Linked DNA regions of Homo sapiens: region 1 is linked to region 2. Evidence: fine-mapped expression QTL. A gene starts in region 2. The other region holds a variant in brackets. All regions are shown on one strand. Distances are from middle to middle.

Region 1 (8,554 bases), 22 kb before region 2:
AAAATTGTAGATTTTCATGGTATGTTGTTTAAATGGAATTTGCACTGCTGCAGTGCTAATGAAATTCCTTATTAAGGAGAGAGATGAGTGCCTTTTATGTTCAAGAGAAATGTTCAATGGCCATTAAAATACTTTGACTATTTGATTTTTTTTCCCTCGAGGTCTAGATCATCCCCATTGTCTGTCATACAAATTAGAGCTTGGATCAGACCAAGAAATTCCCTCTGATTGGTATCCATTTGCTACTGTTCAGTTTTCCGTGCCTGACACCTGTGCCTCAAGGACAGAGGTCAGGTCTCTGGGAGTGGAGAGTGATGTCCAGCCACAGAAACATGTTCAGCAGCGAGCTTGCTACAACATCCAGGTACATCCCAAAACTTCTAGAACTGTGACCTGATTTGGCTTTAAATATTTGTTTTGCTGTCTTTTGTGATCGTGTATGTGTTGTGTGTGTGTGTATATGTGTGGTGAGATTTGCCCTAGAGAGGATCTCAGCTATGGAAACTTGATGGCCACCATTGAGCTTAGTTCTTCCTATCCATTCTGGAGAATGTTGGGAACACTTAATAATTTAGCTCTCAATGAAAAACAGGACATTAAAAATGAATCTACATTTTAGAAGCATATTTATAATAAAAATTATGATGTTAGGACACCATTTCTCAAAATATGTGCTGCAGAACATGTGTCCCATATAATTATCCAACAAAAGAATAAGTTGGGGAATGCCGTATACTAAATTAATGTTAAATAAAGGCTCCCAAGAAGTCCTGCAATAAGGAAACTTGTTAAACTTAGTTAACCCAGTTTTTCCCAACTCATTGGCTATTGTGTCTTGTCTTTGTGGGTATGTGTATGTAAAACACTTATCCCTATCTTGTGGAATAGTGTTCTGTGGAGCATGCTTTAGGAAATGCTGAGTTACTCTATTATGGTAGTTTTCAGTTTTTTTTTTTTTAAGACGGCATCTCACTCTGTCACCCAGGCTGGAGTGCAGTGGCATTATCTTGGCTCACTGCAACCTCCGCCTCCTGGGTCCAAGCGATTCTCCTGCCTCAGCCTCTCAAGTAACTGGGATTACAGCCACCCACCACCACACCCAGCTATTATTATTATTATTATTATTATTATTATTATTATTCTATTTTTAGTAGAGATGGGGTTTTGCCATGTTGGCCAGGCTGGTCTCAAACTCCCGACCTTAGGTAATCTGACCCTCTCGGCCTCCCCAAGTGCTGGGATTACAGGCGTAAGCCACCATGCCTAGCCTATTGGTAGCTTAAAGTTTTATTTTAAATTTTTAAATAGAGATGGGATCTCACTATGTTGGTCAGGCTGGTCTCAAATTCCTGGTCTCAAGTGATCCTCCTGCCTCGGCCTCCCAAAGTGCTGGGATTACAAGCGTGAGCCACCGTATCCAGCCTGGTATTATGGTAGTTTTAAATGTTTGCCATCAGCTCTTCTGCATTCTTAGGCAGATGAACTAAAGGAGGACATACACTTACATCTGTTTCTAAACTTGTTTTCCCTTCTTATCCTCAAGTTTAGTAGATATATGGATGTCTCCTGCCACATATTTCCCACAGTATCTTGAAATGGTGATGCATCTTGCTGATTTTGTTTAAAAGGTTTTCTTTATTTTGAGACAGAGTCTTGCTCTGTTGCCCAGGTTGGAGTGCAGTGGCATGGTCTCGGCTCACTGCAACCTCCGCTTCCTAGGTTCAAGTAATTCTCCTGCCTCAGCCTCCCGAGTAGCTGGGATTACAGGTGCCTGCCACCACGCCTGGCTAATTTTTTGTGTTTATAGTAGAGATGGGGTTTCACCATGTTGGCCAGGCTGGTCTCGAACTCCTGACCTTGTGATCTGTCTGCCTCGGCCTCCCAAAGTGCTGGGATTAGAGGTGTGAGCCACCACACCTGGCCTAAAAGTATTTTTAACTAGAAAATATTTCAAAAATCACAAAAATTAAATAGTGCATTACAGACAGGTGGTTCAGTTTAGAATGTATGTTTCCCTTCTGTCTTTCACATGAGCAACATTTTATAATTTCTAATAGCATTTATTTTATTTTTAAAAATTTAAATTTTGCCTGTTACACAGCCCTCAGGAGGTCCTGAGAACATGTGCCTCTCAAATAGCATTTTAAAATCTATGTGTTGCTTGACTTGCAGCAAAGATTAATGCCATTCTGATTTTCTACTAATTTATTTCTATTAAAAATAGTGATATTATACATGACATCGCTAATATCAACTGGGTTTCCTATACTATAGTAATGTGAGTCAGGATTTTTCTTTATTTTGGACTATCTGTTTAGAAGTCTATGTTTGGGTCCAGTTATCTTTTTCTACTGATAAAAGTAATGATAGGTAGTGCTGTCCTGTGCAGCCCCTTCAGACCTGAAGGATGTATTTCCCCAGCAGGTGGGAATTGCCGCCGCTGAAGATAGCTGCCTTTCCTGAGGTCATGCCTCCTTCCTGGAATCTATGCAGGGGTGTATAGGCCCCTTTGCATCAACTTGGGCTAACGCTGTAGGTCAGCCCAGCTTCAGCTCTCCAGGGCATGGACAGAAGCCTTCATTCTGACTACATTGCATCCCAGCTTCTCTCTCTGCCCATTTAGCTTCATTTCCTGCCTCACTCCCCCATGAATGTTGAACTCAACGGCACTCTCCAGTAAACTTTCTGCACACAGATCTCCATCTCAGAGTTTATTTCTTGGGGAACCTGACCTATAACACTAGGTATATATATATTATGTGTGACTGAAATGTGGGTCAAGTGGCATGGAGACTGTGTTTATACTTATTTTCCTATTCACAGGGCATGCCAGGTTCATGCAATTTTAGTGGACAATTAAAAATTACTTTACAAAGTATCTCTTGCTTTAGTAGCATTTACTAGTTGATGTGCACCTGGTGGCAGTTTCAAAATGTTTTCTTCCATTTAGTAATTATCTGTTGCCAGATACTGCTCCACATGCAGGGACACAGCAGTGTGAACAGAGAGACAAAGTCCCTGTCCTCATGGAGCATAGTTTCTAGTGGGGGTAAACGAAAAATAGTTAGTAGATAAATAAATAAATAAATATGATTTCAACTAATAACAAATTCCAAGAAGGTAATAAAATAGGGTAACGGGATAGAGAGTGACTGGAGGGCTTTATCAGGGGTAGTCCTGGAGGACCTCCAGGAGGATGTGACATTTGAGCTGAGACAAAAATGATGAAGAGCAGATGGTTTACTATTAGGTTGCTGCAAAAGTAATCACGGTTTTTGCCATTAGTTTTGCAGCAACCTAATAGTTTGTAAGATGGCTTGTTTCAATTAGATAATTTTGGGTGCATTATAAATCTTAAGGGGGCCAATGGCTAGATACATGATACAGCCATATATTCAGGTAGAGGGATAATTGATCATATGTCTAGTCAGATCTGTAAATTTTTTTTCAGTATACATATTCTGTATACATTTTATAAAAACTACGTTTGACTTAGAAGACAGTTTTGGTGCTCTTGAAGACTTGACCCTGGCGGGGAGGATTTGAGGGGCTCTGTTGTTCAAAAGGAGAGCAGAGCGCCTCACTTGGAAGCTACTGTAGGAGGGTAGAGGGCTGTGTCTGTGTCCAAAGGGTGAGGTTTGTGCAGTCTGTGCCACATGTATAAAATAGGACTGAAGAGGTGTGAGTGCTGTGTTGCATTTGTTAATGCTGCCTGTGTTTTGCTTTTGCATAACAGGTTGAAATAGAAAA[G/A]AAGTGGATTAAAATCGATGGAGAAGACCCAGATAAAATTGGTGACTGCATAACTCAGTAGGAGTAGCAAGAGTTTATGATGACAGCCCACTTGTCAAATATGTAATTCACCGAAACCACACCAAGTCCTGCTACTGTAGAGTGGAAATGACTTCTGAATAGCGGTTTTAGGACAGGTCTGATGGCTGTGTTTAGAGAAGTTTAGACCTAAAACCGAACAATCTGTATTTTTTGCTTTTCATGTGTTTTTGTCCTAGGGGTTCGATCTAAAATGTTTCTATAATTCGTGTGATGTTTTGCTTCCTATTGAAACTCAAAGGCACTGTTACTCGTTGTGTGACCCCGCAGCCAGTATGATTTTTGATTACTCAGTGGCTGACTGTTTTGCTCTCTGGATTACTGAGGTGCCGTCTTCATTTCTTCCCATCTCTTCTTGCTGCTTAGTGTCTGTACTAGAGGGTAAGGGAATCAAAGGAGACATAAACCAAAATAGTTAATTTTCCCTCTTTCTTGCCTCTGAAATGTGGCTAGGTGTAGAATGATGTTGAAACCACAGGCTAAAATGTAGATCTGGAAGTATCTGTGCTTTTGAATTACTTATTTACCTGTCCTCTTACCGTTGGTAAATAATAATTGGCTATATTTGGTACCTGTCTCTCTCCTACTGTATTGTCATTTTCAAAATGTGTTTGTTTTCTGGCGCGTGCTGCAAAGAAGCTATTTCTGTTGTCCTACATATTTTAGTATAAATCACTAAGACATATTTCCTTTCACTTGGCAGGATTCCTTTCAAAATGGAATCTGAGTATTAGACACTAGTTAACATATTTGTGTATATTAAATATGAATTTTTAAAATTTATAAATACTATTTTCCAAAAGTACAGACTCTAAGGACATATTTTGATAAAGTATTATTTGTAATGAACACAAGCCTCTCTTGAGTAGAAGTCTAAATCACATTATGATTATTTTATACTAGTTCTGCTATCATGCTGTTTTATGCTAATTCTGCTTATTTTAGAGTATTTTTCATTAAAAGGTGAGCAAAGTGAAAGATACTTGGTATTTTACCCAGATTTCTAAGTGGCAACATTTTTATTCTTCAGAGTCAGGTAAATGACTATAATAGTTTGGTTTCTAATGAAAAGTCAATAGCATTAGCAGTTATAATTCTGTTTATAATTTCCTTTCAGCATTTACAGTGAAAAGTGAGAATTTTAAAATTTATGAAATCTATATTCCAGGTATTGTTTTTAGTCTGAAAAACAAACTCCCCCATGTGGTATTAATATACCTTCAATTTATGTTGAGTCTTAAACATAATTAGGAGATATTTTTCTCTATTTGCTAGATTTGTTTTGAGTCAAAACTGATTTAGTGTTCTTCCAAACAACATTTATGTGTTGGCCTACAGAGTTTATTTCATGTGTTTTTTTTAATATTTAATATTATATTACATTCATTGAAATCTGTTCAAAAACAGATTAAGACAAACATTTATGATGGTCTGTATCAATCAGCAGATTTTATTGCTTTTCATTATTTTACTGTAAAGGCAAAGAATGCAATAGGTGATGGTTGGTTGAAAGGAATTGTTATTGCTGTTTTTATTTTTTACTTTTTTTGAGACAGAGTCTCACTCTGTTGCCCAGCCTGGAGTGCAGTGTGTCATCTTGGCTCACTGCAACCTCCGCCTCCTGGGTTCAAGGGATTCTCCTGCCTCAGCCTCCAACTAGCTGGGATTACAGGCACAAGCCACCATGCCTGGCTAAAATTCTTTTGTATTTTTACTACAGACGGAGTTTCCCCATGTTGGCCGGGCTAGTCTCGAACTCCTGACCTCAGGTGATCCACCAGCCTCGGCCTCCCAAAGTTCTGGGATTAAATGCGTGAGCCACCATGCCCGGCCGCTATTGCTCTTTTTAACTTCATTTGATGCCTTGCTTATAATATCATATGCTTGAGGCTCACTGTTGATGTAGAGTAGGGCAAATCTGTGTGTGTATGTCATTAAAAAAATTCTACCATCTTTCTTTATCATCTGGTGTGGGCGCACTCTACAGTGACTTCAGTCTGCTCAGAACGAATGTGGAGGCCGGCCGAAACTGATGCTGCCCACAGTCCCAGTGAAGTTAGGTGGGTTAATTACTGCCATTCCTTTCTAAGTGTGTTTTATGGCATCCTGCCCACAAAGAACTCACAGTCTGATTAGGATGAACTTAATGACTATTTACACCTCAAAATATATTCAGCAAAGGGTTCACTTAGTTGCCCCTCATGCTTCACAGGTTGACTAGTATCTGTGGGTACCTCCCTGCCCAGGTTATTCACTCACAAGCCACCGGGCCTTCAGGACATCTCAAGATTCAGTCTTGACAATATAATAGCAAAAGCTGGACTAAAGCCCAAATGGATTGTCTGTGGCAATGCAGAAGCTGATAGCATTAACAGCAGGGTGTTACAGCATAATTGTTAATTCGCACATCTATTAGGATCCTTAAATATTCATTACTTAATGTTAAATTAACATTCTGTGTAGGGAGGGGAGGCTTATTCAATTCTTCTGACCTCAGAACTGGCAGAAGGTCAGATGTGACTACAGAACTCTAGGTGAAAAATCAGGTAGGGTTCAAATTAAGTAGAACTGCCCTTGCCGGAATAGTGATCTTCAAAAAACCCTTGCTTTTAGGGGAGGGAAGCGGGGAAGGAAAGGAATGAGGGAGGAAATATTCCTTTCTAGCATTCATTTTGCTTAGATCACTCCATTGTGAGTTTGACCATTTTGGAGTCAAATGAGCAGACTTCCAAGGAGTTGACCAGTTTGTGACTAGTCTGGTCACCTTTCCAGTTACAGGATCATATTAACTGTGTAAATGAATTCATGGGTAGATGATTTGTGCAGATCTGAATTTAAGAACATTTCCTTTTTCTGTGGGAATCACAAGAGTTTATCCACTAAAAAAAGATATGTAAAAAAGATACTTTCCAGCACATAAATAAAGGCTGGAATTTTACAACCTGATGTATATATTAGACAGTTCTAGGATGTTAGTTCCCTTCATTCCAGAGCTATGCTTGTGATACAGCCCCTTTTCTTATAAAGTCAGTTAGAAGGACTTCCTTAACAATGACTATTATAATGTCTTACTTAAAATACAGTTTTGTATTCTGTCAATGCAAATATAAGACAGGTTGAGCCTTAATCATGTAACAAAATATTTTGTAGATTACATATTGATTTTTCAAAAATTAAAAATGTATTTCAAACTATTCTTACTGTGCTGTGAATTTATATCTTCTTCTGCAAGACCTGGGGCTATTTTTTTTTCTTAAGGTATGAAATCAATTTCAATAACCTTAAACAATTGACCCTCTGTCAGGCATATGTCAGGCTCCACTCTTAAGGAGTCAGTGACCATGACCTCTTTGCATATCCTGGAAAAATGACATCATCAAAGTATAGTTGATAATGTTATAAAGGATGATTTTAAAAATAGGGTATAATCATGACTCACAAAGATATGAGGCTGGGTGTGGTGGCTCACGCCTGTAATCCCAGCTCTTTGGGAGGCTGAAGCGGGTGGATCATGAGGTCAGAAGATCAAGACCATACTGGCTAACACGGTGAAACCCCGTCTCTACTAAAAATACAAAAAAAAAAAAAAAAAAAAAAAAAAAATTAGTTGGGCGTGGTGGCGGGCGCCTATAGTCCCAGCTACTGGGGAGGCTGAGGCAGGAGAATGGTGTGAACCCGGGAGGCGGAGCTTGCAGTGAGCAGAGATTGCGCCACTGCACTCCAGTCTGGGCAACAGAGTGAGACTCCATCTCAAAAAAAAAAAAAAAAAAAAAAAAAGAAATATATGAAATGAATACATGCATAAGATTACCACTATTCAAAGCCTTTCACAATTTTTCCTTGAAAACAGGAAAAACTTTGTCCACAGAATTCCATGGAATTTTCAACCTTTGGCAACTTGTAGAGTAGTCCTGTAGAATTAATGTGCACCTAAAAGCCACATTTTTAAAGTTTAGAAAACCAGTTTTACAAAATTGCACAGAATATATATCAGGTAAGATATACGTGTGGGTGGTAGGGAGTTGGGGGAGAGTGGAGGAGAGTTGTGCGGGAGTGGAGGGAGGCTGTAGGAGATATGAAGGGAATCAGTGCTTATAAAGGACGAACCTAACAACCTCTCCACCCTCCTTTTTATAAGAAATCTGCCTTGTGTTGAAATTAAATTTTTATTGAGCTACTAAAGTTAATATTTCAAAAAGGCATCAGTACTTCATAGAAGACAGAGCATGAAGCACCATTTTAGCCACTGCTAGCACTCACAAGGCTTGGCCCTAGTTCTTCAGGAACAGCAAAAGGATTGACTGGCAAAAACTGACCATATTTGTAACAACAGTCCTCAAAATCCCATCAATCAATTCTTCCCTGTTTTGTCTCAACTCTGGCTAGACTGTCCCACCGCTTTTGTGTAGACACAGGGTAGATTTTGATGTTGTCTCTCCTAGACCCTCCCCATCCTCTGCAACTACTGTATTCCAAGGAACTTATACCCTTAGCCAGGGCCCTAAAACACAGGGTTATGTGTATTCTGTTGAATCATATGTAATCGCCAATATTTACCTTTCTTGATGGGAATTTCACGGGCTCAATCTAATTATCCACATATTTCCCTAGGTCATATGATACAAGCACTTTTTGTTATCCTGCTTAGAAATGGCAATGAAATATGAATTTGACTAATTTTTAAAGCAAGACAGAGTTGCTAGTCAAGAAGCAAATAGTTGAATTA
Region 2 (8,554 bases):
CCTCCATAAGCTACCTGAGTATCCTCATGACATGACAGCTGGCTTCCTCCAAAATGAGAGAGTGAGCCCAAGAAAGAATCCACAGCTATGAATAACCTTATCTCAAAGGTGATATGCTACTACTTCTTCTTTTTTTTTTTTATTTTAATTTAATTTTTTTTTTTATTGATCATTCTTGGGTGTTTCTCACAGAGGGGGATTTGGCAGGGTCATAGGACACTAGTGGAGGGAAGGTCAGCAGACAAACAAGTGAACAAAGGTCTCTGTTTTCCTAGGCAGAGTGTTTGTGTCCCTGGGTACTTGAGATTAGGGAGTGGTGATGACTCTTAATGAGCATGCTGCCTTCAAGCATCTGTTTAACAAAGCACATCTTGCACCGCCCTTAATCCATTTAACCCTGAGTGGACACAGCACATGTTTCAGAGAGCACAGGGTTGGGGGTAAGGTCATAGATCAACAGGATCCCAAGGCAGAAGAATTTTTCTTAGTACAGAACAAAATGAAAAGTCTCCCATGTCTACTTCTTTCTACACAGACACGGCAACCATTCGATTTCTCAATCTTTTCCCCACCTTGCCCCCTTTTCTATTCCAGAAAACTGCCATCGTCATCATGGCCCATTCTCAATGAGCTGTTGGGTACACCTCCCAGACGGGGTGGTGGCCGGGCAGAGGGGCTCCTCACTTCCCAGTAGGGGTGGCCGGGCAGAGGCGCCCCTCAGCTCCCGGACTGGGTGGCTGGCCAGGCGGGGGGCTGACCCCCCCACCTCCCTCCCGGACGGGGCGGCTGGCTGGGCAGAGGGGCTCCTGGCTGGGCAGAGGGGCTCCTCACTTCCCAGTAGGGGCGGCCGGGCAGAGGCGCCCCTCACCTCCCGGACGGGGCGGCTGGCCGGGCGGGGGGCTGAGCCCCCCACCTCCCTCCCGGACGGGGCGGCTGCTGGGCGGAGACGCTCCTCACTTCCCAGACGGGGCGGTTGCCAGGCGGAGGGGCTCCTCACTTCTCAGACGGGGCGGTTGCCAGGCGGAGGGTCTCCTCACTTCTCAGACGGGGCGGCCTGGCAGAGACGCTCCTCACCTCCCAGACGGGGTCGCGGCCGGGCCGAGGCCCTCCTCACATCCCAGACGGGGCGGCGGGGCAGAGGCGCTCCCCACATCTCAGACGATGGGCTGCTGGGCAGAGACGCTCCTCACTTCCTAGATGGGATGGGGGCCCGGACGAGGTGCTCCTCACTTCCCAGGTGGGATGGCGGCCGGGCAGAGACGCTCCTCACTTTCCAGACTGGGCAGCCAGGCAGAGACGCTCCTCACTTCCCAGAGGATGGGCAGCCCGGCAGAGACGCTCCTCACTTCCCAGACGGGGTGGCGGCCGGGCAGAGGCTGCAATCTCCGCACTTTGGGAGGCCAAGGCAGGCGGCTGGGAGGTGGAGGCCGTAGCGAGCCGAGATCACGCCACTGCACTCCAGCCTGGGCACCATTGAGCACTGAATGAATGAGACTCCGTCTGCAATCCCGGCACCTCGGGAGGCCGAGGCTGGCGGATCACTGGCGGCTAGGAGGTGGAGACCAGTCCGGCCAACACAGCGAAACCCCGTCCCCACCAAAAAAACACGAAAACCAGTCAGGCGTGGCGGCGCGCGCCTGCAATCGCAGGCACTCGGCAGGCTGAGGCAGGAGAATCAGGCAGGGAGGCTGCAGCGAGCCGAGATGGCAGCAGTACAGTCCAGCTTTGGCCCGGCATGAGAGGGAGACCGTGGAAAGGAGAGGGAGAGGGAGACGGGAGAGGGAGAGGGAGACGGGAGAGGGAGAGGGAGACGGGAGAGGGAGAGGGAGACGGGAGAGGGAGAGGGAGACCTACTTCTTCTTTATTTTAGTGGTAAAATAAACCTACCATGGTACAAGGTAGGAGGGGACAACACCAAGTGGTCAATACCAGGAGGCAGGGATCACTGGGGGCCATCTTGAAAACTGGCTACCACAGGTCCACGTGGCAGATTTGCAACTTGGATTTACCTAGAACTTGTGTTAAAGCATACCTCCTCTAGTAGTCATTGCCTGTTATTGGGAAGAAATGACTAGTGACCATTCAGACAAACTGCAAGGGGCAAATGAAATTTGCTGACATTTCTCTGCTAACATTACATAGCCTCTCCATAACTTGAGTATACTGACTGTACTAAGAAATAACAATTCAACTTTTAGTTACACTTTTTATGGGTACCAAGATCCAAGAATAATTTAAAAAATATACATGATCTACGTATAGTTCTGAGAAGGGCAGAATGTGTAATAAAGTAAAACAGTATGCTGTCACAGAAAGTTAGGTGATTACCAATCCTAAGCATTTAGAAATAAAGCTTTAAAACCTTCCTATGAAAAAGATGGAAAACAAGAGACACTTTTAGCTTTCTTATTTCCCAGCTTGAATAATTTAATTGGATTTTATAATATCAGTAGGAATCAATGACTGCTTTTAGCTTTCCTACTTTGGGTGAAAGATAAGTCACTTTGAACACTCCTGGTAGTAAATTGCCAGGTGGAGAGATATGACCATTAAAATGACCATATATAGTTCTTGGCTTTTTGTAAAAGAAATTTCTAATAGTTTTCAATGTAGGAAAGTTTTCTAAAGGGTATCATATAAATCAGCTACTTGAAACTCACAAACCATAAGGTACCTGACCCAGGCAAATCACATACACAGTGGTAGGGGATAAACAGCTCTACTGCACTTACTTGCACAAATAAATAAATAAACAGCCAATTTTAAATATAATAGAGTTTTTAATCATCAAATAACGTATCCATCTGGTTAGGTCAAGACCTATTTGCAGGATAGAAAGGCTGTTTAGAAGAGTTGTGGCCAAGTGCGGCGAGTCATGCCTATAGTTCCAGCACTTTGGGAGGCTGCGGCTGGTGGATCACTTGAGACCAAGAGTTTGAGACCAGCCTGGGCAACATGGCGAAAACCTGTCTCTACAAAACACACACACACACTCACACACACAAAATAGCTGGGCGTGGTGGCACACACACCTGTAGTCTCAGCTCCTTGGGAGGCTGAAGTCAGTGGGTTGCTTGAGCCCAGGAGGTAGACGCTGCAGCGAGCTGTGATCATGCCACTGCACTGCAGCCTGGGCAACAGTGTGAGACCCTGCCAAAAAGGCAGAGTTGTGGCAACAGATGGTGACTTCTTCCCTTTTCTAATCCTCCAGGTTATCTGTGCTTACATCTTCCCTCAGTCTTAGCTAGGTAACGTATGCCCCAAGATGCTCTGCCCTTCAGGAGAGAGAATTATTGTAGGTAGACAGCTGGTGATTTCTGCCTAACTAAGAAAAGGAGATAGGAACGTATTAGCTGCTGACTTTCTTTTAGCAGTGGTTTTCCACCTTGGCTGCATATTAGAATCAGATTTTGCCGAGTGGGATCCAGGCACTAAACTTTTTTTTAAAGCTCCCCGCGTGATTTTAATGTGCACCCAAAATTGAGACTCTTTGTCTTAGGTCAGGGGGTCTCATGTCAGCGCCCATTGGAATCACCTGGAGAGCATGTTAAAGTTACAGAATGCTAGGCTCCATCCTCCAGTCTGATTCAGGAGGGCTGGGGTGGGACCCATCATTTGCATATTTAACAAGTTCCCAGATGCTGCTGATGCTGCTGTACCACGCTGACAAGTCTTAGAAAAATTTGGCTCTTGTTATATTTTTATACAACAAAAAATGGAGTTCAGCTGTGAGTGGGGTGTAGGGGGAGGAATGAAAATTGGTAAATGCAGAGGACAGATATCACTAGTCTCCCCTCTTTTCTTTCCCCATCTTCTTCAAAGCTGAAGTTAGACTGAGATCTACCCCTGCATTTCCCCTCCTCGATTTTCATCTTTCACGGATTGAGGAAACAACCTGTGAACGGCCCAAAGCCGGCTAGACCCAACCTAACCATCCGTTTTAGCGGGTCTCTTTTCTCACACAGGCCGACCGCCTCTCCGCCTTGACCCCCACCTCCACTCAAACCCGCTCCATCTATTAACGTTCTCTTCTGCCCAGCCACGCCCCCGGCGTTCTCCGTGGTTGCGCACCTGACGTACATCGTTCAAAACGTGCCCAGTGTTTCCCTCCGAGGGCACTGCGTGCCGCGCAGGCGCAAAGGGCCAGGTGCTGGAGGTGCTGTCATGGCCTGCCTCAACCCGGTGGTAAGGAAGACCTCAGGCTCTGTGTAGAGGGAGCGCCCTGGGACTCCGGGTTCACGGCAGCCGAACCCTGCACCTTTTGTTTCCCCCTGACACTTTACAGATTGTCATAAACCCTCTCTCTTCCTTAGGGGCTGGGGCTCTTCTTCACGTCTGTGTTGGAGGAAGCTGCTGAGGGCCAGTAGTTCAGCAGGAAGTTGGGCCAGCCCCGCCAAAAGAACAAGTGCCCTTTTTCTCTTTTTACCCAAACTGAGGCTATCTAGTTGGGGTGTTTAGAGGTGGAACTGATCCTCAACCCTGCTGGTTTCCTAGATACTAGAAAACCTCCAAGTTCGGTTGTGTTAATTTTACCGTGGACATTGTTAATTCCAAGCTGTATTATTTACTGCTTGAAATAACAATGTGATATCTCATGTTACCTCCCCACATGTTTTTAGTGTCTTTCACTACCCGCCCATTTCGTTGTCCTTTAACAACTTAATGCTTAAGTGTACAACCTACATTACCCTCCTACCTCTAACGGACACTTAATTTGCACAGTGAGAATTTCTAGTCTCAGTGGCACTTAGGAGACCATCAATCTTAAAAACCTGAATCAAAGAACAAAAATCAAGGATTCATCTTTATTACCAATTCATCTCAACAGACTTCACATTTCGTGAAAGGCAATGTGCCTGTCCAGATCTGTGTAATTTTATGGGTTCCGGGTATTATATATGCAGTATAACAGCTCCATTTTTAGAGACATGCTACTTTAATTATATGTGTTTTATGATAGTGCGTTTTAAGATACATAAAATACCTATACTCTGCCTGAATATAAGGTTACTATGTATGCCAATTTATCTGATTGTGAATTCTATGAAGGAGTGTCTGTATTTTAAATAGAGGAGTTAAGATGGACTAGACATAGTTTTAATAACAGGGATGCAATACAAAGTCTGTGGTCATAGAAGAGAAAATATGTTCAATACCTATTTTGATTTCTGAAAAACTGTGTTCTAATGGGTACTTTTTGACTACTGCTGTGTTAAGATTTTTTAGACCTAAGAGTTTTTTCCTTCGGTGTTAAGCGTGATCACACTAGCTGGGACTACCACTGAAGCATCAATTTAGTATGCCTTTATCAGGATAAACTGTTTTAGAAGAAGCACCTAATTTAGGGGCATTTAGTCTTAATGCATGTGCTTGTGAATAACATTATTTAAATGTTACTGATTGGCCTATTCGTATAGGTTTACCCTGGGTCTTTAGAAGGATTAAAGCATAGCTTTAAATACTAAATACTCTTAGGGGCTGGGCACGGTGGCTTACACCTGTAATCCCAGCACCTTGGAAGGTCGAGGTGGGCAGATCACTTGAGCTTAGGAGTTTGAGACCAGCCTGGCCAACATGGTGAAACCCCATCTCTACTAAAAATACAAAAAATTAGCCAGGTGAGGTCGTGCACGCCTGTAGTGCCAGCTACTCTGGATGCTGAGACAGGAGAATCACTTGAACTTAGGAGGCAGATGTTGCAGTGGGCCCAGATTGTGCTACCGTACTCCAGCCTGGGTGACAGAGCAAGACTCCATCTCAAAAAAAAAAAAATAATAATAATAATAAAAAAAAAGCACAGCTACTCTTGGCATGAACAGGAGTATTTAGGAGTATTTATTTAGTACTCTTAATGAGTACTGAATAGGGTAGGATGAAAAGGCAATCCTAGAGTGCCACAATTTTCATTTTGGCGTGATTAAGCAATTTGAAATAAGAGCAACTCAACTAAATTCCTGCTTTGCTGTTTCTTGCCGGTGGAACTTCCACTAAGTCAGTATTGTCAGCACATAGCATTGCCATTTTGGCCTGGGGGCATAGTTTATATAGATATGAAGGGCTGAGTTTTTTCACATACCCTCTTTTTTGTTGCTATAACTAGTGTTTAATCTGGGTAGAAATCTGCTTAATTTCATTGTCATGGCATGTTTGACTAGGAGGTATTTTAGAATGTTATTTGGTCTCTTCAGTATGCACACTGTGGATGGGTAAGGTTGTTCGTGCCCTTCTTAGGTTCTGGTAGGAAATCCGTTTTGGAACAGGTGTATTTGATAATGGTCCAGAATATATATTTTTTGGACTTTGTGTATTTTGGAAGTGAGATGAGCTTTAATTGCTCTATTTTAAGTGTTTACCCCAGTTTTCTGGCTTGGAGTTTATTTATATTTGTGGAAATAATATAGTGAACCCTAAAAAATTCTCCTTTGGCCACTTTGATAAAGAGGTAAATTGAAAACAGAAGGTCTATTTCTGGTTGACTTACATTAATTTCCCTTTTAAAAGGAGTTGAGGAGGTTAAATACTGACACAAAAGGCAAGTAACATGACAATAACCATGCATCTTTGAGATTATTAGCTCATATGTTATTGTAGTTCTGTAATTCAGTCTTGTAGATAGGCTGAGACTATGGGTCTGAAGCTAACACAGTTTATGGAAAGCTAAGACTATATTGGGAATAGGAATGTACATAGTAAAAGTTTTAATGGTGACTTCACAAGACTAGAAGGTATGCACTGCATATCTTTTAAGGCCAAATATGTTCTAACTTGAGAAGTCAGAACTTTAACAGGCCGGGTGTGGTGGCTCATGCCTGTAATCCCAGCACTTTGGGAGGCTGAGGCGGGTGGATCACGAGGCCAGGAGTTCGAGACCAGCCTGACCATCATGGTGAAACCCTGTCTCTCTAAAAATACAAAAATTAGCGGGGCATGGTGGCATGCACCTGTAATCGCACCTACTCAGGAGGCTGAGGCAGGAGAATTGCTTGAACCTGGGACGTGGAAATTGCAGTGAACTGAGTTCGTGCCACCGCACTCCAGCCTGGGCAACAGAGCATGACTCCATCTCAAGAATAAATAAATAAATAAATAAATAAATAAATAAATAAATAAAATGAAACTTTAACAATTGCTTTTATGTAGCCTAAACTCTACAGATCTGTAATTGAAGATGTAATTGAAGGAGTTCGGAATCTATTTGCTGAAGAAGGTATAGAGGAACAAGTTTTAAAAGACTTGAAGCAGGTTTGTAGCCGATACAACTTTTTCTTCCTGTCTTTTGTTGTTTTTTTCAGCATACAAAACTGATATAGTTCTGATCTCTCAAATTATAGTTTAGTACTTACCCATTCATTGTGCCATCAGGATGACGTTAGTTTTTAAGAAACTGAAAAAAAGAGAAGTATCATTATATGTGTATATATTTTTTTAAAGTAAACTTTTTTTTTCCCCTCTGCAGCTCTGGGAAACCAAGGTTTTGCAGTCTAAAGCAACAGAAGACTTCTTCAGAAATAGCATCCAATCACCTCTGTTTACTCTTCAGTTGCCGCACAGCTTGCACCAAACATTGCAATCGTCAACAGGTTGGATACCATTAGTAAATGAGTACTGTTAGTATCTTCAGAACAAATTCTCATTTGGGAATGTTTTTCAGTTAGACAGGGTAATGTTCTTAGGGTGAGAAGGCTTGGACACCTAAATCATTTCTATTAAATGAACACAGTATAAATCATTGCCCCATGTAATTATTGATTAAAAACTCAGGTTATTCGAACTAGTTTTTATTTTAAATATTAAATTTTACAAAGATGATAAAGCCTTTCTTTAGAGGAAAGTCACATAGTTTGTCAGCTGTTGGGAGCACCCATTGGTAATTTCAGATAATTTGACTGGGTCTAGTCAAGGATTAGAAGTGGCAGAGGGAAAGGTGAGTGCTTGCAAGTTTGTGTGTTCTCTTTCTCTTATTTTTTGTGTATATTATAAATCTGATATATTGGGAGCAAAATGGAGAGTTCAGAATATGGAGATTATTCAGGCTACCTCACTGTTTTGGATATATAAAATAATGGCTAGAAATTGATCATGTGCATTTATCTTTATTCTTGGACTTAGCAAATCTAGACTTCTGCTTTTAAGGGAAATGTTTGTCCACATTATGCGTATCAATTTAAACTGGAAGGGACTAGCTAATAAAAGATAAAACTTAAGAGTTTTCTATCCTTGTATGCTTGATTCCTTTCTTTTTCTTCTGATTCTTATAATCTTTATGTTACTCATATGTGTATATATAAATGTATACTCGCATACAAACAAGTTTTATTGGGTTTAGCTGAAATTCAGCAGAGTAGTCTGCAAGAAGTGAGGGTAGATTTTGGATTGGATTATCAGTAATAAGCAGATAGTTCTTTGCATGCTTGGGAAAATTCACATGAAAATTACATGGGCCAAGGTGAAGAGAACATTGTAAGGATGCTTGTACTTCTTCTATTACAAAGTGGGAGAATTTACATGTGGCAGCAATTCTAACATATAAAAATGAATAAATTAACAATGAATG

Direction of the effects. Alleles are on the strand shown, and positions count from the first base shown. SD is a standard deviation of normalised expression in the study named.
With allele G in place of A in region 1, the expression in gastroesophageal junction of the gene that starts at base 4,146 in region 2 is lower (large effect, 0.90 SD a copy in GTEx).

Evidence for each region. PIP is the estimated chance that this variant, and not a neighbour inherited with it, causes the effect.
Region 1: its variant is fine-mapped to the expression of GTF2A1L in gastroesophageal junction (GTEx, PIP above 0.99). The same link has a PIP of 0.9 or more in esophagus muscle, ileum, lung, prostate, sigmoid colon and stomach.

The regions. Positions count from the first base shown.
Region 1 is chr2:48,591,492-48,600,045 of GRCh38, forward strand. STON1-GTF2A1L (STON1-GTF2A1L readthrough) reads left to right here. Exons shown (of 11, transcript NM_001198593.2): 3 at 162-364. It overlaps STON1 (stonin 1), which reads left to right. Exons shown (of 4, transcript NM_006873.4): 3 at 162-364; 4 at 3,737-7,022. The coding sequence ends at 3,811. Among named protein-coding and RNA genes, the nearest start is that of GTF2A1L, 22 kb to the right of the region's middle. The variant G/A (reference allele first, on the strand shown) is at 3,751.
Region 2 is chr2:48,613,711-48,622,264 of GRCh38, forward strand. GTF2A1L (general transcription factor IIA subunit 1 like) reads left to right here and starts at 4,146. Exons shown (of 9, transcript NM_006872.5): 1 at 4,146-4,185; 2 at 7,141-7,242; 3 at 7,457-7,580. The coding sequence starts at 4,165. STON1-GTF2A1L (STON1-GTF2A1L readthrough) reads left to right here. Exons shown (of 11, transcript NM_001198593.2): 4 at 7,141-7,242; 5 at 7,457-7,580. RefSeq lists an enhancer at 1,144-1,647.